2 linked regions of the Homo sapiens genome follow. The protein of the gene in region 2 interacts with the protein of the main gene of each other region in a pairwise test. Each region holds a gene or a part of one and is shown on either strand. Other genes may lie near its edges.

The links.
Region 1: the proteins of FAT1 (region 2) and SH3RF1 interact in a two-hybrid assay, tested with the Homo sapiens proteins (one study listed by BioGRID).

What each region holds. Positions count from the first base shown.
Region 1 is NC_000004.12:169,090,088-169,105,300, reverse strand, and holds the end of SH3RF1 (E3 ubiquitin-protein ligase SH3RF1), read left to right. Parts: intron 1-8,613; coding exon 8,614-8,782; 3' UTR 8,783-11,042; downstream 11,043-15,213. UniProt on the Homo sapiens protein: Has E3 ubiquitin-protein ligase activity. In the absence of an external substrate, it can catalyze self-ubiquitination. Stimulates ubiquitination of potassium channel KCNJ1, enhancing it's dynamin-dependent and clathrin-independent endocytosis.
Region 2 is NC_000004.12:186,702,926-186,718,940, forward strand, and holds part of FAT1 (protocadherin Fat 1 isoform 1 precursor), read right to left. Parts: intron 6,921-16,015; 5' UTR 6,903-6,920; coding exon 3,638-6,902; intron 1-3,637.

The sequences.
Region 1 (15,213 bases), about 18 Mb from region 2:
GGACTCTTTTTATATCTTATATAAATATATAGTATTTGTCTTAAGTGTCATCTGTTTTATTGTTTCTGTAAGCTTCATTTCCTCTGTGCCTGCATTTCATAAATAAAGCAAATTTCTGCTTTGTGGAGGTATTGCTTTTTTGGTAGCATTTTCTATGTTGCCGACTTGAAATCTTACTATAAAGTGTTATGTTTTTAAATGCCTTAAATTCACCTTACCTCTGTATTTCAGATGAAGCCATATGTATATTTGTATCCACCAAAACCTGAGGCCTGCATTCATATTTTTGGCACACTTTTTAACTTAAAAATAAACTGGGAAAAATGGAAAAGAATAAATTTCAAACCTACTTACATTAAGTGCAAAGCTCACAATTTATGATTTTTTTTTTTTTTTTTTGAGATGGGAGTCTCACTCTGTTGCCCAGGCTGGAGTGCAGTGGTGCAATCTTGGCTCACTGCAACCTCCATTTCCCGGGTTCAAGTGATTCTCCTGCCTCTGCTTTCTGAGTAGCTGGGATTGCAGGCACACACCACGCCCGGCTAATTTTTTTGTATTTTCAGTAGAGATGGGGTTTTGCCATCTTGGCCAGGGTGGTCTCGAACTCCTGAGCTCAGGCAATTCACCTGCCTCGGCCTCTCAAAGTGCTGGGATTACAGGCATGAGCCATGGAGCCCAGCCACAATTTATGATATTTATTTTTATAGTGCTGTACAATAATTTTCTATAGTTCTAACCCCCTAAAACCAGTTTTAAAATGAGCCATTACCCTAAAAAAGTGTTCTCTCCCTACAAATGAAATCATTTTATCTTTCCTCTCATCTGTTGTGCTCTTAGTAAAGCTTTGAAATTTTGTCCAGAATTCACTGAATCTCTTACTCTAAGAGTCAACCTTTTTCCTGCTGTATTGGTCTGCTTTCCAGGGATAGCACCTTCTGTCCCTGGAGTTGGTCCAGTTACTTGTTTGCTTTCTCTTGGTCACAAAGCCTCCCTCCCTCCCTCCAGGCATTGATCTGCAGTTTTCCTTCAAGCCCTGAGGGCATCTCTCCTGTGTTCCCTCTCATTTGTGGTATTTGTGTGACTCTTTTGAGTGATGGTTCACTTTGCCCAGACTCTCCCTAGGCACTGGCATGGGCACTGCAGCCTCCCTCCCCCAGTGCATTCCTTTTCAGTTGCCAGATGTCCTCAGTCTCTACGGCTTCTGCATTCCGGTCCCTTCCTCTTAGAGGGGCTCCTTTCTAACAGCAGGCTCCTGCTGTTCAGTTCATCTGAAAAGAAGGAATTGCTAGCTCAGACAGGTGATGGCATTTCAGGGAGCGGGGGATGCACATCAGATAGGGAACATGGAGAATGTAATGACAGGACAGATGGGCCTGGGCATGCTGGAATTCTTTGATAGGTTTTTTTGTATAACCATTTAAATTTTTACAAGTGGGAAAGGGGTCTTTGGAGAAGATTTCTACCCAAGTTTATATTTTTATAATCCATATGTTCAATGGAATATTAAATATAATAGCCAATCTGACCAACTTTCCACAGCCTTTGCTTTCATACAGTGATGGTGATAGTATTTATTTACCTTGGATTCTTAGATCTGTCTCACAGTAAAAATAACAGGAAAAATGTGCGGTAACATATAGGAAAATGTTATATTATTCACTGGGAATGAAAGTTTTTGATTAATTAAAAGCCACCAAGTATAGAATTTAGGGATTACTTGTGTTCATATTTTAAACATTTCAACACAATAAAAAGTGCTCAATGCTGAAAATGAAGGAAAGATTAACTTTTATATCAGTATGATTGAGAAAACATTTCAGAATCTAAGAATAATCCTTGATTTACAATACAAGCATCAACAACTCTTGCCCTGGCAAAATGCAGAAGGAGCCCAGGGTTCCTTTGGTAAAAATTCTACTGACTGGTAGAATTTCACAGAAGTATTTTTCAATTTATATTATTGGGACACTATGAGGTAGGATTCATCTACAGATTATAATGAGAACAAGCATAAAATTTCCTCTCAAACCATGACCCTATCTCATACATCTAAAGTAAAAGAATGTGCCAGGCATGGTGGCTCATGCCTGTAATCCCAGCACTTTGGGAGGCCAAGGTGGGTGGATCACGAGGTCAGGAGTTCAAGACCAGCCTGACCAAGATGGTGAAACCCCATCTCTACTAAAAATACAAAAAAAAAAAAAAAAAAAAAAATAGCCAGGCGCGGTGGCGGGCACCTGTAATCCCAGCTACTCGGGAGGCTGAGGCAGAGAAATGCTTGAACCCGGGAGGTGGAGGTTGCAGTGAGCCACAGTCGCATCACTGCACTCCATCCAGCCTGACAGAGCGAGACTCCATCTCAAAAAAAAAAAAAAAAAAAAAAAAGAATGTGACTGGGGCAGCCGGTGCTGTCAATGGAAAGAAGCAACCACGTGGTATAAAGACTTAAGCAATCTCATAGTAAGAAAGGATGAACCTTGAAGTGTGTTGACAGGTCTTGGTGTCAGCAGAGAGAATTCTCTTAGGAACAAAAGGATTCTTCTGTGTTTGTTAGAGAGACTGAAGAAAACAAGCAAGAAATAGTGCTATATCCTGGAGGCAGAAAATGTATAATTGATGACAGCAGAAACAATAGAACAAATATATTAGGCTCTATTTTAGAGGGATTGAGAAAAAAATAATTAGGAAATTGCAAAGAGAAAGTGGAAAGAAAATATTTCAGAAGGGATGGCAAATAAAAGAAAGTATATGACAGGTTTTTCTTCCAAAGAAAAAAAATATATATATAAAGAGTTCAGGGAGACACAGCAAGTCATCTTTATCTGTGTGTATTTTTAAATGTAGGAATTAAACTGAGAACCACATACCTATAAGCTCATCTCCTAAATTGGGGGAAAAAAAAAAATCTATGTATGATCTTTGATCAGGGATTAAGCTAGAACACTTGGAAACATACAAATTGGATAGAGATAGATTTACAGAAAGGCAGCTGGGCTTAACCAGCATGATTAATTTCTTTGAATCAGTGACAAGGAACCCACTGGGTGAAGCAATGGACGTAATTTACTTGGACTTGGAGCAAGCTACAAAGGGAACTAGTATGGTTATGCCAGTGAAATACTTAATTGAATATTAGATTGCTGTGGCAACTGGTAGAAAGCAGTAAGTGGTTACTCACCCAGGTCAGAGTGATGAACTGAGTGCCTCCCAGAGCAACATGGGAGCCAATTTGGGCTATACCAGGGGCGATTAGAAATGAAAATGTATGAACTACAGAGAACACCAGAGAGGCTAGAAAAATAAAGGAAACAGGAAATGTATACTAATAAAAGATTGTAAATGCCCATTCAGATGGAAGTTAAAATACCATAGCATTGGAAGTCTGTGGAGCTTCTTTATATTGCAAGACTCTGTTTCTTGAATTGTACCTTGGCAGTTATCACCAAAAGTTGAGTTAAGGTCACACAGCCACCAAGAGGCAGAGGCCATTCAGGGACCGGTCTGTGAGCCACTCTGGTCACCCCATAATGCCTCCACAGCGCTTTGTTCAAAGGGAACAAGGGGTGCTTTCCAACCAAGGTGCCAGTCAGCTTTATACATTTTTCCTTTCTTTTTTTTTTTTTTTTGCCTTTTTTTTAAACAAAAAATTTTATTCATTCATATATCTTATTTTTTAAATTGTGGTAAAGTATACATGAAAATTTACTATTTTTTCAAGTGTACAATTCAGTGGCATTGAGTACATTCATGTTGTCATACAACCATTCACTGCTATCCGTTTCTAGAACTTTTTCTCATCCTAAACTGAATCTGTACTCATTAAGCACTAACTCTTCATTCCCCCTCCTCCAGGCCCTGCAACCACCCTTCTACTTTCTCTCCCCGTAAGTGACTTCTGGGCATCTCATAAGTGGAATCATGCAATAGTCTTCCTTCTGTGTGCATGCAGCTTATTTCACTTAGCATAACGTTTGCAAGGTTCATCCCTGTTGTAGCACGTGTCAGAATTTCATTCCTTTTTAAGGAGCTTTGTACATTTTAAAAAACAGTTTTTCTATACAACTAGGCTTTTTCTTTTTGCCACTTGACATGCTTATTAAGAATTAAAGGTACTATGCTAAGTCCTATGAGGCATATAAAGTGAATTTAGCATCATCTCATCCTTCAAGCAGCTTATGGTTTGGTAGAATAAACGAGACGGACACAGATGGTAATAATACATTGTAGACTGTGCTAAGTGCTGTAAGACATATACATGGAGGCCTCTGCGATTTAGTCAAGCATGAAATTGCCTCCAGCCATGGGGCTGGAGATTTCACAGGGGAGAACTGGAGCCAGGCTTTGAGAGAGTGATAGGGTATGGGTGGGAGAGATAGCGTCAAAGGAGACTCCCACTAGAAGGAACTGCATGAGCCAAGGTGTGGCGTGGGGGAAGTAAAGGCCCTGAATAGGGGACATGTTCAGGCTTAGGGGAGTGTTTGGGACTTTTGTGGTGATAGTAGTAGCTACAGCTGTGTAAAAAGAGATTAGGGCCTGATCACCAAGGGCTTCGCATACCAGGCTGAGGATTAACCTTGCTCACAGGCATTGTAAAGCTGTTAATGATTTTTTGGCAGTGGGTAGCTGCAAATAGAGTTGCCACTTAAGAATATTAGTATGTGAGCTCTGCATAGACTGGGTTGGGGACAGGAAGAGACTTGAAGGAGGCCAAGGTGGGTGGATCACCAGGTCAGGAGTTAGAGACCAGCCTGGCCAATATATTGAAACCCTGTCTCTATTGAAAATACAAAAATTAGTCGGGCATGATGGCACACACCTGTAATCCCAGCTACTCAGGAGGCTGAGGCAGGAAAATTGCTTGAACCCAGGAGGCGGAGTTTGTGGTGAGCTGAGATCGTGCCATTGCACTCTAGCCTGGGTGACAAGAGCGAAACTCAGTCTTAAAAAAAAAAGATATTTGACGAGGTGGAAGGTAATGAAGTCATCAACCAGGATAGTGACAGTGACAATGAAGAGGAGTGGATGGGATGCAGATTTTGAAGGTAGATCAGCAGGTCCCATGTAGGTCATGGGAGAGTATTCATTGACCCCTGAGGTTCAGAACTTCCCCAAACCCCTGTTCATATAAAGAAAAGCATAATCCGAGTGAGGCAGAGGGTGGAGCAGCAGATGTAAAGGGCCTCTGCAGCTGTGCCTTACATCTGTTTGTTGGTCTGTAAATGTTCTACTTGGCAAAGCCTTTCAATGCCTGAAATAGTTGGCCAGTTATGCCCAGTATTTGGCCTTACAAATCTGTATTAGAAAACTGCAAACCACCTCACAAGGCTCAAGATCAGGACCTGAGCTGGAAGATTTCTAAGTAGAGTCTATTACTCCTGCACCTGGTAGTCTTCATACGATCAAGACTGTGTCACAGTTTCCATTATGCACATAGTTTCTCATTCCACCCGCCCCCCCAGAGGTTTATAAAACTTAGCAATGAAAATTTGCTCCCACTGGGAACTTGGCAGGAAGAGTATGTTCTTAGCCCAGCAGCAGTTCTAGTTCAAAATTTTTTTTTGACAAAATTGGTTTAGTGCATTTTATAAAATGCATATATTAATCTAATTCACTTCAAGTTTTTCAATAACCATTTTTATTCCATTTCACCTTTAAGGCAGCTCACAGAGAACAAGTAGGGAATATATCTCATGAGAAGTCTACTCTGAATATGTTTTGAGTCACTTGTACATTTTTTCCCAGAATTATAAAGCTTTGCCTTAAATGTTTAACTTGCCCCACATGGCAACTACATCATTGCTTTTTCATGGATTTTTAGCATGTTGACATTAGACTTGAGAAATGTCATCTGGATCCTTCTTTCAGATAAATTCATGATGAAATTATTTGTCTTGCTTTTAAAGGTGTCAGAGAGCTGGGCATAGCGGCTTATGTCTATAATCCCAGCACTTTCTGGGGCTGAGGCTGGAAGATTGCTTGAGCCAAGGAGTTCAAGACCAGCCTGGGCAATATAGTGAGATGCCATCCCTACAAAAAGTAAAAAGATTAACCAGGTTTGGTGGCACACACCTGTAGTCCCAGCCGGAAGGCTGAGGTAGGAAGATCAGTTAAGCCTGGGAGGTCAAGGCTACAGTGAGCTGTGATTGCATCACTGCACACCAGCCTGGGCAACAAAGTAAGACCGTCTCAAAATAAAGATATCAAAGAAGGGATTCCAAAACCCTAACTGTGTTGATCTAAAGTTTGTCAAATCTCATTTTCAGGAAATGAGGCCTGAGTTGTGGCCTGAGTTCGTTTCCTAGTTAGAGATGTCCAGCCACTGACTGGCCCATTCTTCACCTCCTTGAAGTGCCAGGCCTCTGCCTACTCTTGTCTAAGCCATATGATCATAATGGGAGCTAATATTTTCAGGTTGAACTCTTTGTCAGACACCATACGAAGAGCATCATACTTGTTTAACTCATTACAGTCCTATTCTACAGATGAGGAAACAGACTGAGAGCTGAGATAACTGGCCCAAAGTTAAGCTGCTCTAACTGACCTTAAAGACTGTGTCAATCCTTAGGCCAGTGTTTCTCCCGCTGTGTCATGCTTCCTTCCTCATTCCATGCTTGATCAAACCCCAGCCTTGTGGTCTATGAATATTCATGTTTGAATTAGCTGAACCTTTCTCAGATATGATAAGCCAACTTCTGTGCTGTGCTTTTGCTTCAGATCTTGGGTAGTAATTTGGTCCCTGTGCCAAAGGAGCTCAGGTTGTTCAAGCAGCCACTTACCTTTTGCAGAGATGTGTTTTTTTAGTGTAATAGTCTGGGACTCTTGCTGTGGTCTTTCTTAAATGGATTTTGGTTTATATGGAATGGGAATTGGTGAAAGGGGCAGGCTGTAATAGGTTTCAGAAGTTTGGGGACAGTTGTATAGAATTTGTTCTGCCTATCATTTTGAAGCCATAATATTTTTCACTTTCAGTCAGGAGTGGGTCCCACGAGGCTATACACTCATTTTCTGACTTTGAGAACCAAATGAAAGTAGAAACCCAAAATCAACTTTATGACTGACTACTCATTACTTAGCATCAAACAGTGAAAGATGTATTTATTAGATATCTGTTGCCATGTAACCAGTTACGCCCAAAAGTCAGTGGCTTAAAACAATAATAAGCATGTATTATTTCACACTTTCTGTGGGTCACATAATTATGGAACAGCTCATCTGGTTGGTTCTGGCTTAGAGTATTTCTTGAGATTGTAGTCAAGACATCAGCCTGAGCTGATGCTCAACTGGGGCTGGAGGATCCCCTTCTAAGATGGCTTATTCACATCACTTTTTCTGGTTAGTTTAGGCTTTTGGAAAGAGGCCTCAGTGCCTTACCATGTGTTTCCTCTCCATAGAGATGTTGAGTGTCCTCACAACATGGCAGCCAGTTTTCCTGAGTGACCGATCCAAGAGAAAGTAAAGTGGAAGCCATAATGCCTTTTATGATCTAGCCTCAGAAATCACCCACTGTCATTTCTGCAACATTTTATTGGCCACACAGGTCATCCTGTGCATCATAGGAGGAGACTACACAAGAGTGTGAATACCAGGAAGCAAGGATCACTAGGGCCATCTTGGAGGTTGGCTACCATACACCACCATTCTTTTCCCCCCTTTTGTTGAGAAGAGGAGTAATGCAAATAATGCTGGAAAAATAGAGAAAGATAAAAGGATATAGAGTGTAAAACAAGTCACCTCCCTCTCGTTTCCTACAAGCTGTAATTCTGCACAGGAAGGCTAAGGAGCATGGAGGCAGGGGCACAGATAATATTAAACCAACTAAGCTTCTGCCATTTTTAAGCGATAATGACACCTTTCCCACTAACTCCAAATTCTGAGCCAAGGAGAAACAGACCCAAATGTCAGAATAATAGAGATGAGAATGTCAACCTCGTTACTGGTAATGTTGGATTGAACTTGTGGCCATAGCCCTCCCCTCCATGTCTGGACCTTGGGACTACCTTCCCAAGGGATAATCTGGGTATGTGGGGCAGATTACCTTCCTCAGAATTGCTGCCTCGCCCATGTCAAACACCAGTGTAAGGGACGTAGGGACACAGAGACAGACTTCCAGACTCACCTTCCTGACCTCTGTGTGCTTACAACATAGAGGTGGAGCAGAGCCTCCTTAGCCTGTGGGCAGGCGGTTCAGAGAGGACTGAACCCCCCCTGCTCAGCTACTTCTCCCAGTCTCACCAATCAAATAAATTCACTCCTGTTTCCTTGGAGAAGAGGGAGGGATAGAAATGATACCCCTCTCGGGAAATGAAATGAAACTCTCCTTTATGGCCAAGATACAAACACTGGTAGGGAACAAGGATGGCTGTCCTTGTTAAGGTCACTCAGATGAACCAGTCTGGGCCATCAGTAGTGGGTTGACACACATATCCAAATCCAGTCTTTGTTAGTACTAAGTCTCTACTAAACAGAAAATAGCAGTATTTTGAGTTGTTTTACAATCATAAATGAATTAATGTTATTTCCTATTTATGTTGAAGGTTCGTGCAGACTAACAGTACACCATTTTTTAAAATCACTGCTTTGAATCGCCTTAACCAAAATCTCTTTCTTTTCTAGGCACAGGGTGGTGGTTTCCTATCCTCCTCAGAGTGAGGCAGAACTTGAACTTAAAGAAGGAGATATTGTGTTTGTTCATAAAAAACGAGAGGATGGCTGGTTCAAAGGCACATTACAACGTAATGGGAAAACTGGCCTTTTCCCAGGAAGCTTTGTGGAAAACATATGAGGAGACTGACACTGAAGAAGCTTAAAATCACTTCACACAACAAAGTAGCACAAAGCAGTTTAACAGAAAGAGCACATTTGTGGACTTCCAGATGGTCAGGAGATGAGCAAAGGATTGGTATGTGACTCTGATGCCCCAGCACAGTTACCCCAGCGAGCAGAATGAAGAAGATGTTTGTGTGGGTTTTGTTAGTCTGGATTCGGATGTATAAGGTGTGCCTTGTACTGTCTGATTTACTACACAGAGAAACTTTTTTTTTTTTTTAAGATATATGACTAAAATGGACAATTGTTTACAAGGCTTAACTAATTTATTTGCTTTTTTAAACTTGAACTTTTCGTATAATAGATACGTTCTTTGGATTATGATTTTAAGAAATTATTAATTTATGAAATGATAGGTAAGGAGAAGCTGGATTATCTCCTGTTGAGAGCAAGAGATTCGTTTTGACATAGAGTGAATGCATTTTCCCCTCTCCTCCTCCCTGCTACCATTATATTTTGGGGTTATGTTTTGCTTCTTTAAGATAGAAATCCCAGTTCTCTAATTTGGTTTTCTTCTTTGGGAAACCAAACATACAAATGAATCAGTATCAATTAGGGCCTGGGGTAGAGAGACAGAAACTTGAGAGAAGAGAAGTTAGTGATTCCCTCTCTTTCTAGTTTGGTAGGAATCACCCTGAAGACCTAGTCCTCAATTTAATTGTGTGGGTTTTTAATTTTCCTAGAATGAAGTGACTGAAACAATGAGAAAGAATACAGCACAACCCTTGAACAAAATGTATTTAGAAATATATTTAGTTTTATAGCAGAAGCAGCTCAATTGTTTGGTTGGAAAGTAGGGGAAATTGAAGTTGTAGTCACTGTCTGAGAATGGCTATGAAGCGTCATTTCACATTTTACCCCAACTGACCTGCATGCCCAGGACACAAGTAAAACATTTGTGAGATAGTGGTGGTAAGTGATGCACTCGTGTTAAGTCAAAGGCTATAAGAAACACTGTGAAAAGTTCATATTCATCCATTGTGATTCTTTCCCCACGTCTTGCATGTATTACTGGATTCCCACAGTAATATAGACTGTGCATGGTGTGTATATTTCATTGCGATTTCCTGTTAAGATGAGTTTGTACTCAGAATTGACCAATTCAGGAGGTGTAAAAATAAACAGTGTTCTCTTCTCTACCCCAAAGCCACTACTGACCAAGGTCTCTTCAGTGCACTCGCTCCCTCTCTGGCTAAGGCATGCATTAGCCACTACACAAGTCATTAGTGAAAGTGGTCTTTTATGTCCTCCCAGCAGACAGACATCAAGGATGAGTTAACCAGGAGACTACTCCTGTGACTGTGGAGCTCTGGAAGGCTTGGTGGGAGTGAATTTGCCCACACCTTACAATTGTGGCAGGATCCAGAAGAGCCTGTCTTTTTATATCCATTCCTTGATGTCATTGGCCTCTCCCACCGATTTCATTACGGTGCCACGCAGTCATGGATCTGGGTAGTCCGGAAAACAAAAGGAGGGAAGACAGCCTGGTAATGAATAAGATCCTTACCACAGTTTTCTCATGGGAAATACATAATAAACCCTTTCATCTTTTTTTTTTTCCTTTAAGAATTAAAACTGGGAAATAGAAACATGAACTGAAAAGTCTTGCAATGACAAGAGGTTTCATGGTCTTAAAAAGATACTTTATGTGGTTGAAGATGAAATCATTCCTAAATTAACCTTTTTTTTAAAAAAAAACAATGTATATTATGTTCCTGTGTGTTGAATTTAAAAAAAAAATACTTTACTTGGATATTCATGTAATATATAAAGGTTTGGTGAAATGAACTTTAGTTAGGAAAAAGCTGGCATCAGCTTTCATCTGTGTAAGTTGACACCAATGTGTCATAATATTCTTTATTTTGGGAAATTAGTGTATTTTATAAAAATTTTAAAAAGAAAAAAGACTACTACAGGTTAAGATAATTTTTTTACCTGTCTTTTCTCCATATTTTAAGCTATGTGATTGAAGTACCTCTGTTCATAGTTTCCTGGTATAAAGTTGGTTAAAATTTCATCTGTTAATAGATCATTAGGTAATATAATGTATGGGTTTTCTATTGGTTTTTTGCAGACAGTAGAGGGAGATTTTGTAACAAGGGCTTGTTACACAGTGATATGGTAATGATAAAATTGCGATTTATCACTCCTTTTCATGTTAATAATTTGAGGACTGGATAAAAGGTTTCAAGATTAAAATTTGATGTTCAAACCTTTGTATGTCCCTTGTGTCAGTCCTTAAAATTTTGCTTTTTAAAAAAACAAAACAAAACAAAAAACACGGGACACATTTGACCTAATTTGTACCTCACAAAAATTCTTTGCATACATCTCAAGCGGAAGATGTCTACAGGAATCAATTTGGTGATTATGACACATTTTACCTCTGCAACTAACAAACCTTGTTTATTTCTCCAAGAAGCTTAAAAAGAGTTTGTGGAGTCGCACGAGGTCATGTATGGCACTTGTGTTCCCCTCTTCCTCTTCCAGTTACTAAAATAATCTGGTGAGTGCTAGTTGTCTTAGCCATAGAAGGAAAAGCAGACCTATCAACCAATAGTATGATAACCCGTAAGTCTCAGCATGGCTTGGGGACAAAATCTTTAGATTCACCATGGTTTTAATTTCCCATGAAATGAAAGGCCCATGTAAGTCATGTTAAAAACTATTTTCTTATTAACTTTTGGCTACTGTCAAATGACTTATCAGAATTGAAAATCAGGAATTCTAGGTTGTATTGTAGCTTTTCCAAAAACTATCTCTGTAGCCACCTGGGCAAGTTGATTATTACTTAGTTTCCTCCTTTTGGTGTCCCATCTACCCCACTGGGTGAGGATGAGGAGCAAAGGAGATAATCTCACTGTTTTTGAAAAGTGCTATTTTAATGTGTGGCATTAAGTTTATCTCTGGTTTCAAATATTCATCTCACTCTCTTGGAGTATATGATATAATGCTTTTCAGGGTCTGATTGGTTTTAGAAGGAACAAATTAAGGTGATGTTTCCAACTGCTATGCATTTAACTTTCTGTTCCTATAATAGAACATATTTGCATACCTCCAGAAGAACATTCAATTCTCTGAATATTTCAATCCAGAGCTATAAACAACATTAGAATTCGGCTTTGGAAATTGTGTTTAATAGATGTTTGACTAAGTTTAATAGATGTTTGACTAAGTTTAATAGATGTTTGACTAACAACTCTTTGTGTGTATTCATCAAATTTTTAAAAATGTGTTTTGAATCAAACTATGTCATTATCAATGTCACATCCTATTTAAATTACTTTTTTTCCAGGAAAAATAATTAGCAGCCTACCAAAATCAATAAGATATTTATAAGAGATTAGTCATGTCCAGGCAAAGGGGTGTAGCCCTCGCTAACTCCCTGTGGCTGCAGGCTGTAATGGGGTATGCTGGGGAACTTTGCCCTGTCCATTAGTATCACCAGAGGCAGGAAGGAGCTATTAGAGTGAGTAGTCACCTGCCAATGTGAACAGCGACAGTTTTAAAATACCTTCTCTCAGGTTTACAGATGAACATCCCTTGGATTCCTTTTGTGTTTCCTACTAATAAATTTCTGATTTGGCTACTTTTCCATTTCAGAAACACCACCTGCATCTCACTCAGTGCAAATTCTTACTGTACTATGGCCATCCAGGCTCTGTAACCATGCTGCAGGCACCTGCGAGTGGCATTAATCTTTGAGTCCCATTCAATACTATTATAGAGTCAGACTATTCTAATAAGTCTCCAAAGATAATGGAATTATCCCAGCCAGTAACCAGTGAGCCAGCTGCCACTTCTATTGCCTACACCTTAGATACGAAATTTGGTTCCAAGAGGTCTCTGACCTTGGGGTTGAATCTTTCAAGCTCTGAATCCTTGTGAAAGTACTAGAAGAAGCCATGATAGACTTTGGCATGAGAGGGCATTCCTAAATATGATTCAAAATTTAGAAACTGTAAAAAAAAGAAAACCTTGATAAATTGTACAAAATATCAAAATAGTTACATGACAAAACACCATAATCAAAGTCAAAAGAATAAACAATGAAATAAATCATTTGTAAGTCCTGTAGCAGGCAAAGAGATAATTTCCTTTACATATAAAAAAAAACTTCTACAAATAAGAAAAAAAACCCAAAGTAACACTAACCAAGGATTTGTGACAGAAATTGCCAATTGTCGTGGCCGAGCGCGGTGGCTCAAGCCTGTATTCCCAGCACTTTGGGAGGCCGAGGCGGGTGGATCACAAGGTCAGGAGATCGAGACCATCCTGGCTAACACGGTGAAACCCCGTCTCTACTAAAAATACAAAAAATTAGCCGGGCGTGGTGGCAGGTGCCTGTAGTCCCAGCTGCTCGGGAGGCTGAGGAAGGAGAATGGTGTGAACCTGGGAGGTGGAGCTTGCAGTGAGCCGAGATCGCGCCACTGCACTCCAGCCTGGGAGACAGAGCAAGACTCCGTCTCAAAAAAAAAAAAAAAAAAAAAGAAATTGCCAATTGTCTCTGAATATTTTCATTTTCTTTTTTCTTATTAACTGATATCTGGGCTTTGTGCTTAGTTAAAAAGCTCATTTTTGTCAGGGTGTGGTGGCTCATGCCTGTAATCCCAGCACTTTGGGAGGCCAAGGCAAGCAGATCACCTGAGGTCGGGAGTTTTGAGACCAGCCTGGCCAACCAACATTGTGAAACCCCGTCTCTACTAAAATACAAAAATTAGCCACCTGTGGTGGTGCATGCCTGTAGTCCCAGCTACTTGGGAGGCTGAGGCTCAAGAATCATTTGAACCCGGAGGTGGAGGTTACAGTGAGTAGAGATCGCCCCACTGCACTCCAGCCTGGGCCGCAGAGGCAGACTCAGTCTCGGAAAAACAAAACAAAAAAACTCATTTTCCAGTCTCCCTTAAGGTTAGGTGCAGCCTTGTTACTAAGTTCTTGCTGAGACACAAATGAAAATATCACAGGGAACTTCTGGTAAGGCTTCTTAAAAGGGAGAGGAGGCCAGGCGCAGTGGCTCACGCCTGTAATCTCAGCATTTTGGGAGGCCGAGGCGGGTGGATTGCCTGAGGTCAGGAGTTCAAGACCAGCCTGGCCAACGTGATGAAACCCTGTCTCTACTAAAAATACAAAAATTAGCCAAGCATGGTGGCACACGCCTGTAATCCCCGCTACTCGGGAAGCTGAGGCAGGAGAATCACTTGAACCCGGGAGGCAAAGGTTGTAGTGAGCCAAGATTGCACCACTACGCTCCAGCCTGGGCAAGAAGAGCAAGACTCTGTCTCAAAAAAAAAAAAACTTAAAAAAAAATTTTTTTTTAGTTTTTTTTTTAATAGTTATTGTGAGAACATAGGTGACTGTTGGAAACAGAATGCTTGTTCCCAGGTACTACAAGGAAAAATCAGCATTCAGACAAAAAGTTCTCTCAGCAAGGCAATTTTACTTTCTGCAGAAAGGGTGCTCTTAGCAGATGGAACAATGGCAAGAGCACCCTTTCTAAATAAAAGCAATTTATTGTAGAATTGTAGAAAGTAAATATAGTTTCCTCTTCAAAGTTTCCCTTCTTGTTAAAGGATAATAATAAATCATAAATGTTAGAAATAATTTAAAGACTAACTTCCTCCAAGCCTCCTTGCTTTGTGCTAATAACTCTTTGTTAAGCCCTAGCCTATGTAGCTGTTAGACATGCTCACAAGGCACATAAGACATTCTATGTCTTTGTACCTTAACCAAGATATTTGTGCTAGACATGCTCACAGGCACGTTCCAGCTTGCAGCTTATGCCCCTTCCCTATTTGGCATAAGCAACTTCCTCTTTTCCTTCGTTCTCCCTTGCCTTTACCTATTTAGGACAGTTTTAAATTATTAGCCAGTCAGGTTTTAGTTTAGATTGTGCGGTCTGGCTCCAGCCAGTGGACACAGGACACAGTAGCAGGGACAAGCTGCGTAAGGGATAAAAATTGCTTCCCTCCTTTGTTCAGGTGTGCTCTCGCCATTGTTCCATCTGCGAAGAGCACCCTTTCTGCAGAAAGTAAAATTGTCTCACTGAGAGAACTTTTTGTCTGAATGCTGATTTTTCCTTGCAGTACCAAGGAACAAGCATTCTGTTTCTAAATAAACGTTTTACATATAACAGTGACTTTTAAGATGCAAGAGATGTACTAATTTGTTGGAGAAAGAAGGAAGGAACATGATACCCTAGTAAACTTGAGCCTTCATGCCAGCCTGAACTACTCATCTTTAAATATGATTTATTTGAGAATAAACCTCTTGAGTCCAAGCTACTGTAGTCTTAGCCACCACCAACCTGACTGGTATCAATATAAACTGACAGTTCATTAAAAATATATTTTTTATGTAAATATTATTTCTATATTATTTATATATATA
Region 2 (16,015 bases):
TAAATCTACTTTATAATCCTCACTGTAGACCTTACAGATAGCAATCTGAGGAGGAGAATCTTAATTAGAGCTCTGGAAACTGGCTCTCTAACGAGACCGACTTTCCAAATAATTGTTCACATGGCCCTCTCCCCTTCCAGACCTCACATGGAAGGGCAGTCACGTGGCATGGATCTGTCAGAACAGTTCACCAACATCCAGAGGCCTCTCCAGGAAGGGCAGATGATACCGTGAGACCTGCAGAGTCCACGCCCGCCATCCCCACTCTGCCACTACGCTTTCTCTCGCTGCAAAGCCATTTGCAGAACATGTACAAACCACGGAGCTAAGAACACAGAGCTAACAGGACTGTCCGTTTGGTGACAGATTTTTAGGTAGTCCATAGAATTTCTACTTCTACAAAAACAGAAAACTACGTTTCAGAGGATGTTTCCAATTTAAGCAGATTTAAAGAGAAGAAAAGGAAAGATCTTAAAATAGAACTTCATTCAGCTTGCTGGATAGGTTCTCTGTTCTGTGAAAAGTATATAAATGATACACATATTTGACTAGGTTGAAATAGGTAAAATATGACAAAAATTTGGTTATAATACTCAACCAACACTAGTAGCTTTAAGTCAAAGACAAGAAGCAAACAGTTACGTGGACAGGTTGTTGGTCCCCAGAGCCACAGCACTCCTGCACAGGCTCATATTAATTAGCGCAATATTAAATGCCCCCGAGTTAGGCAAAGAAGACCCTGGTGGACATGGGCAATGGGCAAGGAGCGAAGTTCCAGCAAGCACCAGCCTGGCCTGGGCCGGGTGCACGCCAAGGCACACCAAGCTGTAGTGCAGTCTCTGGCAGCCCCCACGGGTGTTCCTCAACTGCCCCTCCATCTCTTCACCTGACACGCATCTTTCCACACTTCCTTCATGCCCTAGAAATTAGTTAAGACACACTCCAAGTGAATAATTAGCATGCCTAATTTTAGCCAACAAAATATACTGATTTTTCCTAAAGGAGTTTCTACACTGTGATACCAATTGTCCTGCCAGGAATCTCTGAAGAAATAACTTGGGCTGATAATTCTTCTGCCAAAAAATGTATCTTGTAATGAATACGAGGTCCAATGTGTAAATATTATTCTATCACTTTTGTTCATTTCCAAAAGCATATAAACGTAAGTCTACTGTACACTACTTACTTTCTCTGTAAAGCAAGGACCACAGAATAAATGACCTACAAATTTCCAGCTTCTCTCTCACCTTTAAATCTCAATATTTACACACAGTTTCTTATATACTTACCAACCACACTGCCCACAATCCCAACACCTCCCCGCCTCCCACTAAATTACTACTGGAAAAGTCTGGCACTGCCCTTTCTGGAAAATACCATAAATCTATTTTGGGACACCACCTCGTTTGGCTGGTTGTTTCCTTATTTTTTTTTTCTTGGTAGTAAAAATATCCCAATCTCTTAAATGTGTAGGTGAAAAATACTAGTTTCGAAATGATTCCTTAAAAAGCAACAATAAAAATACTCTTCTTCACTTGAAAGAAAAAACCCAAAAGGCAGTGTTCATACAAAGTCATGAAGAGAATTTAAATTAAGGTTTTGGTTCCATTTTGTCTCAACTTTAACTTTTAACAGTTCTTTATAGGCTTTTGAAACCTACTTTGGAGAAGGAAAAAAAGTAGGAATAACTGTTCTTCAAAAATTTTACAAAAACAGTTTGACTCAGCTTCAGTTGTTAAATTTGGGGTATTTTTCTATGTTGAAACAGTATTTGAAAATTCTAACTTATACTGGACAGATAAAATGATAAAAAAGACATTCTACTCTTCAGAGGATTATCAAATGCTGTTGATTATGCTAGTTTCTCTTGAAATAAACTAATTATGGGTATTTTAGATAGTGATATATAGTCTGTAGACTTAATACATAGGCCATATGCTAGTGGCACATAACCAACAGAGAAAGAATTCCTTGCATTAATAGAAGCACAAAAAATATATTACAACTTCCAAAATAACTTTTTTTTTTTTTTTTTTTTTGAGATAGTCTGGCTCTGTTGCCCAGGCTGGAGTGCAACGGCACAATCACAGCTCACTCCAGCCTCGACCTCCTGGACTCAAGCCATCCTCCCACCTCAGCCTCCCAAGTAGCTGGGACTACAGGTGTACCACCACCCCAGCATTTTTTTTTTTTTTTTTTTGGTAGGAACGAGGTTTTGCTGTTACCCAGGCTGGTCTTGAACTCCTGGCCTCAAGCAATCCTCCCACCTGCGCCTCCCAAAGTGCTGCGATTACAGGCGTGAGCCATCGCACCCAGCCCAAAATAATGTTTTTCTAAACAGCAGTTACATTTTTCATGTGCTACACACCTATCAGATGGCATGGATCCCAGGGTGGGTGTTGACTGAAGACTCTCTTGTTTTTTTGTGTGTGTGGTATTACTGAATATATAAAGTTTAAAGGTAATTTTAAAAAGGTCCCTTTTAAAATGCACAGATTTATAAAGTACACATGGGTGAGATTAGTAAACAAATTGAGCCCCACCTATTGCTGATGAGTGCTATGATCACCCCTTTTCTATTTCCACTATCATTCTCAGAGGGCAGGACATGAAAAGCCAACACATTCGCTCATTTACTCCTGCAGTCTTTTAACACTGATTGACCAGCTTCTATGTGCCAGGCACTTTTTGCTAGGTGCTAAACACAGAAGATGCAGGGGCTAAAAGCCTGCCCCGAAAGGCTCACACTCCACCAGGACATATTGACATATAACTACAATATCTGCGCAGCAAGACTGAGGTATGTACAAAGTGCAACACACGCACTTTCTAGCTTGGACTGCTGCCTTGGAGGTCCCGGTTTCAGAACCTTCAGTATTACAACAAAGCACTGCTACCATGAATAAACCTACCACACGTCAGGAGTTTTCCCGTGTTATTTCACTTTACTCTCACTTAAACCTTCCGGTATTTCTAAGTGTCCCCATGTAGAAGAGGAAAAAGTTAGTTCTAAGAAGTCATTTGCTTGTCCAGGATCACCAATTACCAACTAGAAGAGCCAGGATTCCAAGCCAGGTCTTCTCAGTTCAGCATGCCACTACCCCGCCTCTGCCTCTCGACCAAAACCTAGACGAGGTACTAAGTGAAGACCACATTAGAGAAGTTTTGGCACATCATCTCTGCACTGGGTAACTTTGCCGGTGTGCAACAACCTCTGAATGGCACGCCAGATGGTAGCAGTAGTTGTTCTAAGTATGAGCCTGCAAATACACTGACTGAAAAAAGTTGGAAAGACTTCTCAAAGTCAGAACAAAACCATAATGATGCTTTTGATAATAGAGTTCAAAATAGAGTTTGGAGATCAGTATCAGTGATAACAATTTCAATGTATCCCTGGTCTTTTACTCACTTTACGCCACTTAAATCACTCAGGCCCTTTTGTTTCCATCTTCATGGCTTACTACGAATAAACACATCTACAATACAGCAGCCGGGCCAAAAAAAATATTCACACGCACTTCTATACCGAGCCCAAAGAGCAACAGGGAATTTTGAAGAAGCTGCCACAGGGCAGATGGTTAAAAAAAAAAAAAAAATGGAAAAGGGCATCAAATGAGAGCAATAAAAACATATTTACCTGTCTCTTCACCTATTTTGAAAACACCAACGCCAGAGCCATCTCTAATGGAGTATCGGATCTCCCCATCTCTTCTGGCGTCCTCATCATGAGCCGACACCGTCATTACCAATGAACCAACAGGTGCATCTTCTTTCACTGTCCCCTTTTCCACAAAGCTGGAAAACACGGGTGGGTGCAGGTTCTCATTCACATCAACCACCTCAACTTCAACATAGCAAGTAGAAGACAGAGAAACTGGCTTTCCCTTGTCTTTGGCCCTCACAGTGAGATTATACACTTGCTTCTTCTCAAAGTCCAACTGCTGGACGATCCTAACTGCTCCACTGAGTTTATCCACATCGAAGTTTCCTTCTCCGTGGTCCAGAAGGCTGTATCTCACCTGACCAGACTGACCTAAATCAGGATCGTGGGCTTCTAACCACATGATGACGGTTCCTTCTGGAAGATCCTCTCGGACTTTCACACGATAATTAGGTGGAATAAATGTAGGTGGGTTGTCATTAACATCTTCTAGTGATACTTTCACAACGACAGTGGAGAACAGCTGAGGCTCTTCTCTGGCTTGGTCCCTGGCCTCAATCTTTAAGGAGTGCTCATGCTGCAGCTCTCGATCCAGAGGGCGTGCGATGTTAACAACACCCGTCACGCTGTCAATTGAAAATGTGTCTGTGTCTGTAACAATTGAGTACGTCACGTGTCCGTTGGGCCCCAGGTCTTTATCTGTGGCTTCAACCTGGATGATTTCACTATGTACCTCCTTGTCTTCACTCACTTCCACAAAATAGCTCTCCTGTAAAAACTCGGGTGGATTATCATTGGCATCGACAACCACGACATGTAGAAGACGCCACGCAGCCTTCTGGGGTATCCCAAGGTCATAGACGGTAATATTCAGGGTGTATTTGTCTGTTGTTTCACGGTCAAGAGGAGATAAAATTTTCAGCATTCCTGTTTCCATATCAATCATGAAGCAACTATCCTCATTTCCTCCAGAAACAGCATAGACCAGTTTTCCATTGAAGCCAGTGTCAAGGTCAGTGGAGTTCATGAAAATTACACTGGAACCCACAGGCTGGTTTTCCTTTACCTGAATACCAGTCGGAAGAGTGCTTCTAAACTGCGGTATGTGAGCATTGACAGAGTGAGAATCGAAGAAAATATCCTCCACCTCTCCCTGGTTGTGTAATTTATTTGCCTGCAGGAGCTTCTCTGCCAGCATTTTGGCAACACCAGTCTCTTCACACTGCAAGTTTACCAGCTTGTGACTGGCAGCCACTGTTATGTTGATATATAATGGTGTGGCAAAATTTTCTCCATCTGTAGCTGTGATTCTCAGACTGTGGAAAGACACCTTTGCACCTAAGCCATCCATTAGCGATCGCTTTAATGACAATACCCCCGAGTTGGGGTTTAAACTAAAGAAATCCAGTTCATTTCCAGCTTCAATCTGATACTGTACCAACTGAAGTTCATCTGCATCAATAGCAGAAACAGTGGTTATTTGCTCTCCCACGCCTAGATCTCTGGGAATTGTCCCTTCACAATTTATTTTCTCAAACAAAGGTGTGTTGTCATTCAAGTTATTGAGAGTAATTGTAGCAAGGACTTCGACTTCCCGGCGGTACGGCAAGCCCCAGTCTGATGCACGAATCCTCAGAGTATAAACCCGAGGCATCAGTTCGTAGTCCAGGTTTTCTGACGTACTCACGGCACCAGTGAAATGGTCAATCGCAAACGGCACATGATTTAAATTTGCGATACTGTATGTCACGTACCCGTTCTCACCCTCATCAGGGTCTACGGCACTCAGGCTCATGACAGTAGTACCAATGGGCACGTTCTCATCAAAAGCAGCTTTGTACGCTGTCTGGGTAAATTCAGGGGGATTGCTATTTGCACCTAAGACTTTCACCAAGACCTTGGTGGACGCTTTTCTGTCACTTGTTGTTACTTCAAGTTCAAAATGGGCTGCCTGCTGTCTTTTAACTGGTTCTAAAATAGAAATGAGACCAGTGTTGTAATTTAAACTGAATTTAGCTTTTCCAGGTGTACTTTTAAAAACATACCTCAAATGGGAATAAGCAGGAATGGCCTTTACCATGACCACAGGTGTGTTGGGAGGAGCAAATTCACTTATTTCTGCTCTGTAAACATCCTTTTCAAACTTGACTGGCCCGGCTTTGAACTGTGGAGAAGTCACGTGAATGACTTTAACAGAAGAGAACTGGGGCGGAGTTCCTTTATCTTTAGCCTGTAGTGTGAGATTGTAGCCGAAAGGATGACTGTCCCAATCAATGCCACCGATGGCTTTGACTTTATACTCCTTACTCCCTGGAAAGGACCTCACTGTTCTAAACTGCTGGAGAAGGTCACCTGCCACGATGCTTAAAGATGCTATGTCACCATTGGCACCCTGATCGCAGTCATCCACTGTCACAATTGCATATGCTGGGTCCCTGTCCAGTTCTGATGGTGACAATGTCACTGCTGTTATCACCGGAGCACATTCATTGGCCTGTTCGATGTGCACCGTTAGCTTGGCCATGCTGCTGATGCCACTGCTCCCATACAACTTCATGCCACGGTCCGCAGCGAGGATTTCCATCTCATAGAGCTTGGTCTCTAGGTAATCAAGTCTACCAGTTAACACTATCACACCACTGGTTGGGTGAATAGCAAACATATCTGTTCGATCTTTAAAACTGTAGTAAAATTCCCCGTTGGTTCCTATGTCTGCATCCGTGGCGCTGACTCTTGCGATACTGGTCCTTATAGCTGTGTTTTCAGGTAAAGAAACGCTGTATGAGGTGGGTGAGAATAACGGTCTCAAGTCATTTGTATCCAGCACCTGCACCCTGACCTTTGTTCGCGCCTCCACATTAGTATTTTTTTCAAGTGCTTTCACTATCAATGTGTAGTGATCCTTCACTTCTCTATTAAGAATAGCTGTATTTCCTCCTTTGGTCCTTATTCTTAGAAAGCAAAAGTCTCCGAGAATGTACTCTTCAGCTTTGAACAGGTTTTCACTGTCTCCGGAAACAATTTTGTACCTTACTTCCCACGCTGGATGTGTAATGTAAACACCCATCTTGACAGGATGCCCCACATAAGTCTTAGCTGCAGAGTTCTCCTGCACGGTGACGTTGTACTCGAGGTGTGTAAACTGCAGAGGAGTCTGTTCAAGTCGTTGGCTGCCATCACTGTCTCCAAAATGTTGGAAGAGAAGGAGCAGAAGCAGGAGCAAAGCCAAATGTCTCCCCATTGCTTAACTGTCGGGAATCTGAAACAGAAGAAATCAGAATCGTTACCTTGGGGAAATAAAACAAGCAAAAGTGTGTACATTGTTTTAAACTTCTCATTAAAAAAATATTTTCCATACACATGGAATATAAATAAATGCAACGGTTTGGGATGTTTTTCATGTTTTCCAATATAAGTATCAACATTCTTGTAACATGTCTAGAATTATTAAGCTTAACAAAAACTTCCTTTTCATTTTTGAACGACAAGGTCCTCTCTTTCATATTTAAACGACTCAAAAATCTTCATGAGTATCAAATGAAAGGCTACTAACTGTAACAACTAAGTTATATTTTTATATTTAAATCGTTAAGGCAAATATAAGCAACTGTTAAAAATTAATGAACATTGTTTACATTTACTTACATACAATGAATTAAATGATCAAAAGCTGGCAAACATAATGCCCCTACAGTATTGTGAGAATGCAAAGCTTCTGACAACTAATTCAGAAAAAAACAAAAACCAGCAGTGGTTTTACATGGCGCTCCATAAGAACAGCTTGTAATCTCATTTCAAAATGTATCCTGAAATTATATTATTTCTGTATAAGAATGGTTAAGTTCACTCCCTACATAATGTAAGGGTTTATTGTCTCATTTCGCTCTATGTAACTACTTAAAAGTATTAAAATAATTATATCAAGTATAATACTTATCAGCAACATAAGCCCCAAAGAAAGGCAATTTACAAAAGAAAAACCAGAATTCAGCAGCCTGATGTCAAACAGCATTTTTCCTCTCTAAGTCAGTGAAGCAAACTTTACCAACTATATCAATGTTTTATCACCACTGCTGTCAACAACCAGTTGTTCACAGAATGTCTCCTATCTTCAGGGCATCGAACAACCTGTCACCCTGGGCCCCTCCATGAGAAGATGACACACACACACAAAAGCTAAATCTTCTAAGCTAACACACGTCAAGGGTCAAATCAGTCTATTAATACATGGTGGCAGACTCTGCAGGACAGTCCCTGGGTGACTGGCGGAGAAAAGAGAGAAACTGAAGAAATGAAGAAAACGTTGCCTTTAACAATGACAAATGGGAAGGTGGGCGAAGTCCACTGGGCTGAGGTCTGGCCAGGGAAGCAGGACAGTTATTTTCAGATCAACTGTTCCCCTTTGCCAACAAATTCATCTTGTAAATCAACACAGCTTCACAAAGGACAGCACTGTCATCTTGCAAAGTGACTCTCAAATTAATATTCACAAAATGTGAATGCTACCAGAGGTAAATGAAGAGCAAACTGGAGGGTGGGTTTGACAGCCCAGTTGAAATTGGTACGACAACATTAATTTATAGTATCTTAACTTAGCTACTGCCAACTCTGCCCCATAAGTCATTGCCTTAGGGGGAAAAAAAGACCTGATGTGCTTAAAGCAATTAAAGCTTAATTGATATTGAACCACGTTCAAGTTGGCCACCCTAACTTGTTCTTTAGCTATGATGCCTTCTCCTCTCCAGATAAAGTCAGAAATTAGACAGATTTTTGGCTTCTAGGAGAACAATTATCATTTAAACAAAATAAGAAAACAATTTTCTCCCAAAACTATCTCTTTAAGTATCTCCATTTAGTCAACAGTTCTAATACTCAGGGAAATTTGAATATTATAAAATAATCTTGTAATTTTATCAAAACAAATAAAAAGTTCAACCTACAGGTATGGAGGACCTTATCAGACAGAACCTTGCATGGTGTTAAGGAATAAAAGACAAAGATCCCAATCCCAAGGGATTTACAAACTAGAAATAAAAATACATATAAAGAGGCTGGTCACGGTGGCTCACACCTGTAATCCCAGAACTTTGGGAGGCCAATGCAGCCGGATCCCTTGAGCTCAGGAGTTCGAGACCAGCCTGGCCAAAACATGGTGAAACCCCATCTCTACTAAAAATACAAAAATTAGCAGGATATGGTGGAGCAAGCCTGTAATCTCAGTTACTCCAGAGGCTGAGGCAGGAGAATCACTTGAACCCGGGAGGCAGAGATTGCAGTGAGCCGAGATCGCGCCACTGCACTCCAGCCTGGGCAACAGAGCTAGACTCTGTCTCAAAAACAAAAAAACAAAACCAGAAACACTTGGATGATGTTTAGCAAGCAGTGTCTTTTGTTTTAGGAGTCACATTATGTTTTAGGAGACATTTTTACCATCATCCATTGTACAACAAAATATTATACCAGGATTCTATTGCAAGTACTAGAAGTATTTTTGCTTAATTCTACGTATAAAGTTATCATGCAGCCATTAAAAGATAGCACTCTGTATGTTGACATATGTCTAGCTATATAAACTGGAAAAACGAAGCTGATCCTATTTATGTTTATTTAAAAGAGAGGAGAAGGGGGGTAGATACAATGTACCCACGGATATACTTTAAAATGGACAGAAAAGTCTAGGCAGACAAGCAACTGTTAACAGTGGTAACTTCTGGAGAACCGGTAGAGAAACAGGTAGCTGAGGGAATGATTACTGTGGCATTTTTCTCTACTGTGGTTTTTTTTTAGCATGAGTATGTGTTGTCTTTATCATCCACTCACCCCTTTCATTAATTATTTAATTCCTTTTACATAGGTTTAATGAGCATCTACTATGTATCAGGTGCAGTTCTAGACGCTGGGGATTCAAAAGTGAACCAAATTACCAACAAGTCCTGATGGAAGATACATTTCCTGGCCAGACACAGACAGACAAGTAAACAGAGTATATCCGATGCTGATAATTAAGTGCTAAGGAGAAAACTAAAGCAGGGCAAAGAGAGACCAGGGTCAGGAACCTGAAGGAAAAGAGGGAACCCTAAATCCAAAGGGTCAGGGCTTACACTAGTGACATGCTGGGCAACTCTTAGATTCTTTGGGGAAACGTAGAGTGTTCAATATGATTCCTGGTCCCCACCAGCATGAAGCCTGTGGCATCCCCCTCATCACCCAGCTGTGATGACTAAAAATACCTCTATCTCGAGACATTGCCAAACACCCTCTAGGGCAGAAAGTCACACCCCGCAGAGAAGCACTAGATTAGGGAAGCCAGAAAGAGACCACGTGGCTGGAGCACAGCGGTTGAGGGACAGCGGTAAGGCCGGGGCACATCCTGGGAGAGAACCTATCATGAAGGGGGTTCTTTTTAAAAATAAACCTTATTTTAGAATGCTTTTAGACTTACAGAAAAGTTGCAAAGAGAGCTTCCCCTACTGTTAACATCTCACTTTAGTACATTATACTAGATACAACTAACAAACCAGTACTGACACATCATCAACTACAGTCCATACTTCACTCAAATTTGCTCATTTTACCCAAGGCCTTCTCTCCATCCTAGAATCCCTTCCAAGACACCACCTTACATTTAGCTGTCATGTCTCCTAAGGCTCCTCTGGAATGTACGTTTCTCAGATTTTCCTTGCTTTTAATGATCTGGACAGTTTCCAGAAGTACTAGTCAGGTATTTTGTAGGATGTCCCTCAACTGGAATCTGACGTTTCTCTCCTGATTAGATTGGGGTTCTGTTTTGGGGAGAAAAGCCACAGAGGTAGAGTCGTTTCCACCACACCGTAGCAAGCGGGTAAAATCAACACGATTTATCGATGTTGACGCTGCTCCTGACCACGTGACTGAGGTAGTATCTGCCAGGTTTCCTCACAGTCAGGTTACTTTCACCCCTCCCTGTACTGTATTCTTGGTAAGGAAGTCACTGCATGTAGCCCATTCTTAAGAGACAGAGAGTTTCGCTACTCAAAATATTTATAATTCTTCTAGAAACTGATTTGTCTATCTTCCTCCATTTATTTATTCAATTTTTTTTCTTTTTTAGACAGAGTCTCGCTCTCTCACCCAGGCTGGAGTGCAGTGGCGCGATCACGGCTCACTGAAGCTTTGAGCTTTCCGGGCCCCCGTCTCAGCCTCCTGAGTAGCTGGGACTATAGGTGCGTCTGTAGATTTAGACTGACAGAATTTTACATACTCAGGAACCACCAGCACGCCTGGCTCATGTTTGTATTTTTTATAGAGACGGGGTTTCACCACGTTGCCCAGGCTGGTCTCAAACACCCAGGCTCAAGCGATCTGCCCAACTCGGCCTCCCGAACTGCTAGGATTACAGGTGTGAGCCACTGCATCCAACCTGAATCTTTTTTTTTCTCAAGATCCGTCTGGACTCATGGATAAAGGACAATTTTTAGGACTTTAGAGTTTAGTATGAATCAAATGAGAAGTCCCCCAGCGGATTCTGAACCGAGGAGTGCCACGGTCTCAGTAAAATGGAAAAACCTGTGGGCAGCCAGGGCAGAAGCTGGAGGGCGACCAGAGCAGTCAGAGGCTGCAGCCACAACACAGGTGGAGCGCGTGTGGGCTGGGGCACAACGGGGGTGGGGGGCAGATTGTGAATCTATTTCAAGGTTGCCTGATGCTGGAGTGGGGAGAGGGAGGGAAAGGAGGAGAGAACAGTACCAGAGAAGATGCCAAAGACTGCTCAGCGTAGAGAACAAGGGGGCCAGGAACCGAGAGGGAGACAGGAGGAGAAGCAGCCTCAGGGAGCAGATCGGGAGGTCAGTTTTGGACAGGGTAAGATGGGAACAGCTACGGGCTATCCAAGTAAAGATTGTGAGTGGGCAGCAGATATGTGGGAGACTCCAGCCGGCAGATAGAAATTTGAGAGTTGTCTAAATATGAAAGACGGTATTTAAAACCACAGAACTGAATGAGATCACCAAGGAAGAGAGCAGGCAGAAGAAAAAAAAAATCCAAGAGCAGAACCCCAAGATTTGAAGGGTCCAAACGGGAGGCCCTGACAGGGGAGATGTCGGCCACTGAGGGAGGAAAGGGAACCACAGCATAGTGGTGTGATAAGAAACAGTGAGTAAATAAAGATTTTTCTACAGCTGAAGCCTAACATTAGAACTTGGAGTTCTATATAATATAAATACTCACTAATCCAGCTGGGCGCGGTGGCTCACGCCTGTAATCCCAGCACTTCGGGAGGCCGAGGCAGGCGGATCACGAGGTCAAGAGACCGAGACCATCCTGGCCAACATGGTGAAACCCTGTCTCTACTAAAAATACAAAAAGTAGCTGGGTGCGGTGGTGTGCGCCTGTAGTCCCAGCTACTTGGGAGGCAGAGGCAGGAGAATCGCGTGAACAAGGGAGACGGAGGTTGCACTGAGCTGAGATCGCACCACTGCACTCCAGCCTAGGTGACAGAGCAAGACTCTGTCTCAAAAACAAAAAAAAAAGTACTTGCTGATGCGCCACGCTGCTTCCCCCTCCATCCCCCCACCAGAAGGCTCTGGCACTGTTCCATCCCCTAAGACACACAGACCATGGCCAACACGTCAGACTGCTTTGGCTGTTCTCTCCCCATGCTGTCCCAGGTGCTCAGTCCCACCACAGCCCCCACCACCACCCACTCATCCCCAACTGGATTCCCAAACATGCAATTACCTTCCACATCCTACTCAGCAGTTCTCACGGGACACAATACAGCTGGGACGGACTTGTGGACCACATTCCTAACTGAAATCTTTGAAAAACCTGAATGTACTCTGCAAACTTGGCTAACAGAATGCTACTGTGAGTAGAATAAATTATTAAATGAAAAAATACACTTTTTGGAAGACATTGTTAACCGTGCAGTAATGTAACCAAGAACCACGAATTCAGGTTTCACTATAAAAACCACCCTGATCAAAACAATGGCTGTGGCTCTCATGCAAAACAAACAGTAAAGCTGAAGCGGGGAGAGACTCCAACACCATTTCATCTAAAAAGGACCTTATCGCCTAGACTCCTTTGCTTATGGAAATTAAACTCCAAAGACCATCTGAGCCAAGGGCTATACTTTGATATTTAGAAGGTGATCACACTACTTAAACTCACTGCAATTTGGGATTTCTAAAATGCATTTTCCGAAGCCAAAACAAAGAGTGTTTACTTAGTCTAGCCTTGAAGGAGAAGGGCTCCCAGTCTAAAGCTTAAATATCTTTAGCATAGATCTCTGAAAATCTATAAATACGGCAGAAAAATAACTTTTGCAGTAAAAATCAGATATTAATATCTTCATATTTCTTCATTAGGGAGACCTTCATGTAAAATGCTTCCATCAATTACTGTGACTGCACATTCTTCACAAAACAGAACACAGCCCCTGTGCTGAAAACCTAACTGCATATATTCAAGTGTTTAGATGACCTCAAGCTCAAGTCTTCGAAGGGTTTCACACGCCACAGAGACAGGACATTAGGTGAGACACAGCATCACACAATGCACCAATTCTGTTAAACGCCGCATATTTATTACTGAGCGGTCACAATTCTTACAAGCACAAGTAGTCATTCTAGCCTTTATGGAACAGGACATTATTAAACTTTTCATTTCACATGTTATGATAAAAACACAAAATTATTAAGTTGAGAACTCTGTGTTCTCCCTCACTGTGCTCTTCTCCACTCTCATTTTCTATCAACATAGTGAAAGCGTCAGTAGAATTTAACTCATGATTAAAATTTGGAATTTCGAGTTCAGTTCAGTGTCACATTTTTAAAGTATTTTTAAGAGATCTCTAAATTGCAAGCATCTTTCTTCCCCCGAGACAGGGTCTTGCTCTATCTCCCAGGCTGGAGAGCAGTGGCACCATCATAGCTCACTGCAGCACCAACCTTCCAGGCTCAAGTGATCCTCCCGCCTCCGCCTCCGGGGTACCTGGGCGTACCACCATGCCCAGCTAATTTTTTGTATTTTTGTAGAGATGGGGTTTCACCATGTTGCCCAGGCTGGTCTCGAACTCCTGAGCTCAACTGATCGACCTGCCTGGACCTCCCAAAATGTTGGGATTACAGTTGTGAGCCACTGGGCCTGGCCGGCAAACACATTTTCAAAGCAGGATCATGAAGTTGTCAAGAGATTATGAATTGTAAACGAGTTTTTTTGTTTGTTTGTTTGTTTTGGAGACAGTCTTGTTCTGTCACCTAGACTGGAGCACAGCGGTGCAATCGTGGCTCACTGCAACCTCTGCCTTCTGGGTTCAAGCGATTCTCATGCCTCAGCCTCCTGAGTAGCTAGGAATACAGGCATGCACCACCATGACCAGCTAACTTTTGTATTTTAGTAGAGACGGCCAGGCTAATCTCGAATTCCTGGCTGCAAGTCATCCACCCACCTCAGCCTCCCAAAGTGCTGGGATTACAGGCATGAGCCACCGCACCCAGCGTAAATGGCTTTTTAAAAATACTGTATATTAAAAAGAATGTTGAATGATTTCTAAAATTTCAGACATTCCAAATAAAATTTACAACAGGAAAAAAAAAACTCTCTATTTTTCTAGTTCAATTATCATAGCCATGTCGGTACTTTTAAAAGCTTTCATCCTTACACTGAAATACTAATGAGTAGATCCTGTTTATTTTCTGGGTGTACACTAATTCTTTTCAACCCATCTTCATATGATTTTCAGCATGAACGGAGGAAGCTGTGACCCTAGAAATTGAGCAGCAGCCTTAGGCTTGGTATATGTCATTTAATCACTTCTGCTAACTCCATTTATATGTTGTTATCTTTGACTGGGGCTGCAATAATCTGGTAACTCTAGCAAGACATACTTTAAATATTGCCTTCACATGATCAACCACCGGTTCCAATTTAACCCTGAGAATGGTCTTTACTGACAATGACAGTGTGGAACTACAATCTGGCTTTTTCAGAAAACTTCACCATGTACATGATTTAATCAATCCAAAATAGATTCCTGAAGTGTTCCTGCCCTTAAGAAAGATAAACAGATGTCCTATTTTTCAAACAGCCTCTATATAAAACCTAGTTATCTACATGAACCTATAAAACATGTCTGTTGGCATTACGAAGATGACGGGTTCTAGTTGTTCTGTGCTCCTGGGAACGACAAGACAGGACAGGTAGGCAGCGGCTGTGTGTCTATTTCTGGCAGGGTGAGGCATTCCTGTGCTATTCTCTTCTTTCCCCTCTCTATATATTCCTTATCCTCCAACCACTTTCTCCTCATCCACATTCCAGGACAAACTTTGCCCAAGGAGAAGCTCAATGGACTGTTGACCTCTTGTGAATGGAGATCATCTCATCTAATGTATTTTTCTCCACAAACAGAAGTAATTTAAATGACATCTTGGCAGAGTAGCCAATAATCAACAATGGCCACTTCTTCCACTCCCAAGTTGGTAAGTAAGACTTTATTTTATACGTTGAATTGGGCTCCCTGTATAATTAGATTCGGTCAACCCTTCACTAAATGACAGACCAGGAAAGTGAATGTTCCATGTACAGCAAGAAAACGGAAATCTTCAGGGAGAAAAGTCCATCTTCCCTCCTCCTCTTAAAATGTTCTCTTCACCTGTTCTCTCTTCTTACACCTCAGAAGAGATGCCACCCACCCTAGCTGCAAATAAAGATACTCTGATACCACAAAATCCTGCCTCTTCTACAGCTCCTCCCACTCCTGACACCTTGTGCAGAATCCATACACACACACAGGTTCTTCTCCTACTTAAAAAATAAGCTTGGCCAGACACGGTGGCTCATGCCTGTAATCCCAGTACTTTGGGAGGCTGAGGTGGGCAGATCATGAGGTCAAGAGATTGAGACCATCCTGGCCAACATGGTGAAACCCCGTCTCTACTAAAAATACAAAAATTAGCCGGGCGTGGTGGCATGCACCTGTAGTCCCAGCTACTCAGGAGGCTGAAGCAGGAGAATCGCTTGAACCCGGGAGGCGGAGCTTGCAGTGAGCCGAGATTGCGCCACTGCACTCCAGCCTGGGCGACAGAGCCAGACTCCGTCTCAAAAAAATAAAATAAAATAAAATAAAATAAACTTCATTCAAACCTTTGCTTCTTTCAAACAAACACTCTTATTCTTCTCTTTTTTTATACTGGCAAAGATCGCAAGAAAAGGAGTTTCACAGCACCGCCCTGGCTTCCTTAGAACTCCCTCTCCGCCAAACGCTGCTCCACAGAGATCCTGCAGGTCCACCCTGGCAGAACAGCCGTTCCCGCATCACAAGCTAATGTCAAACCAATGACCTTTTCTCAGTGCTCATCCTCCTTGATTTCATGA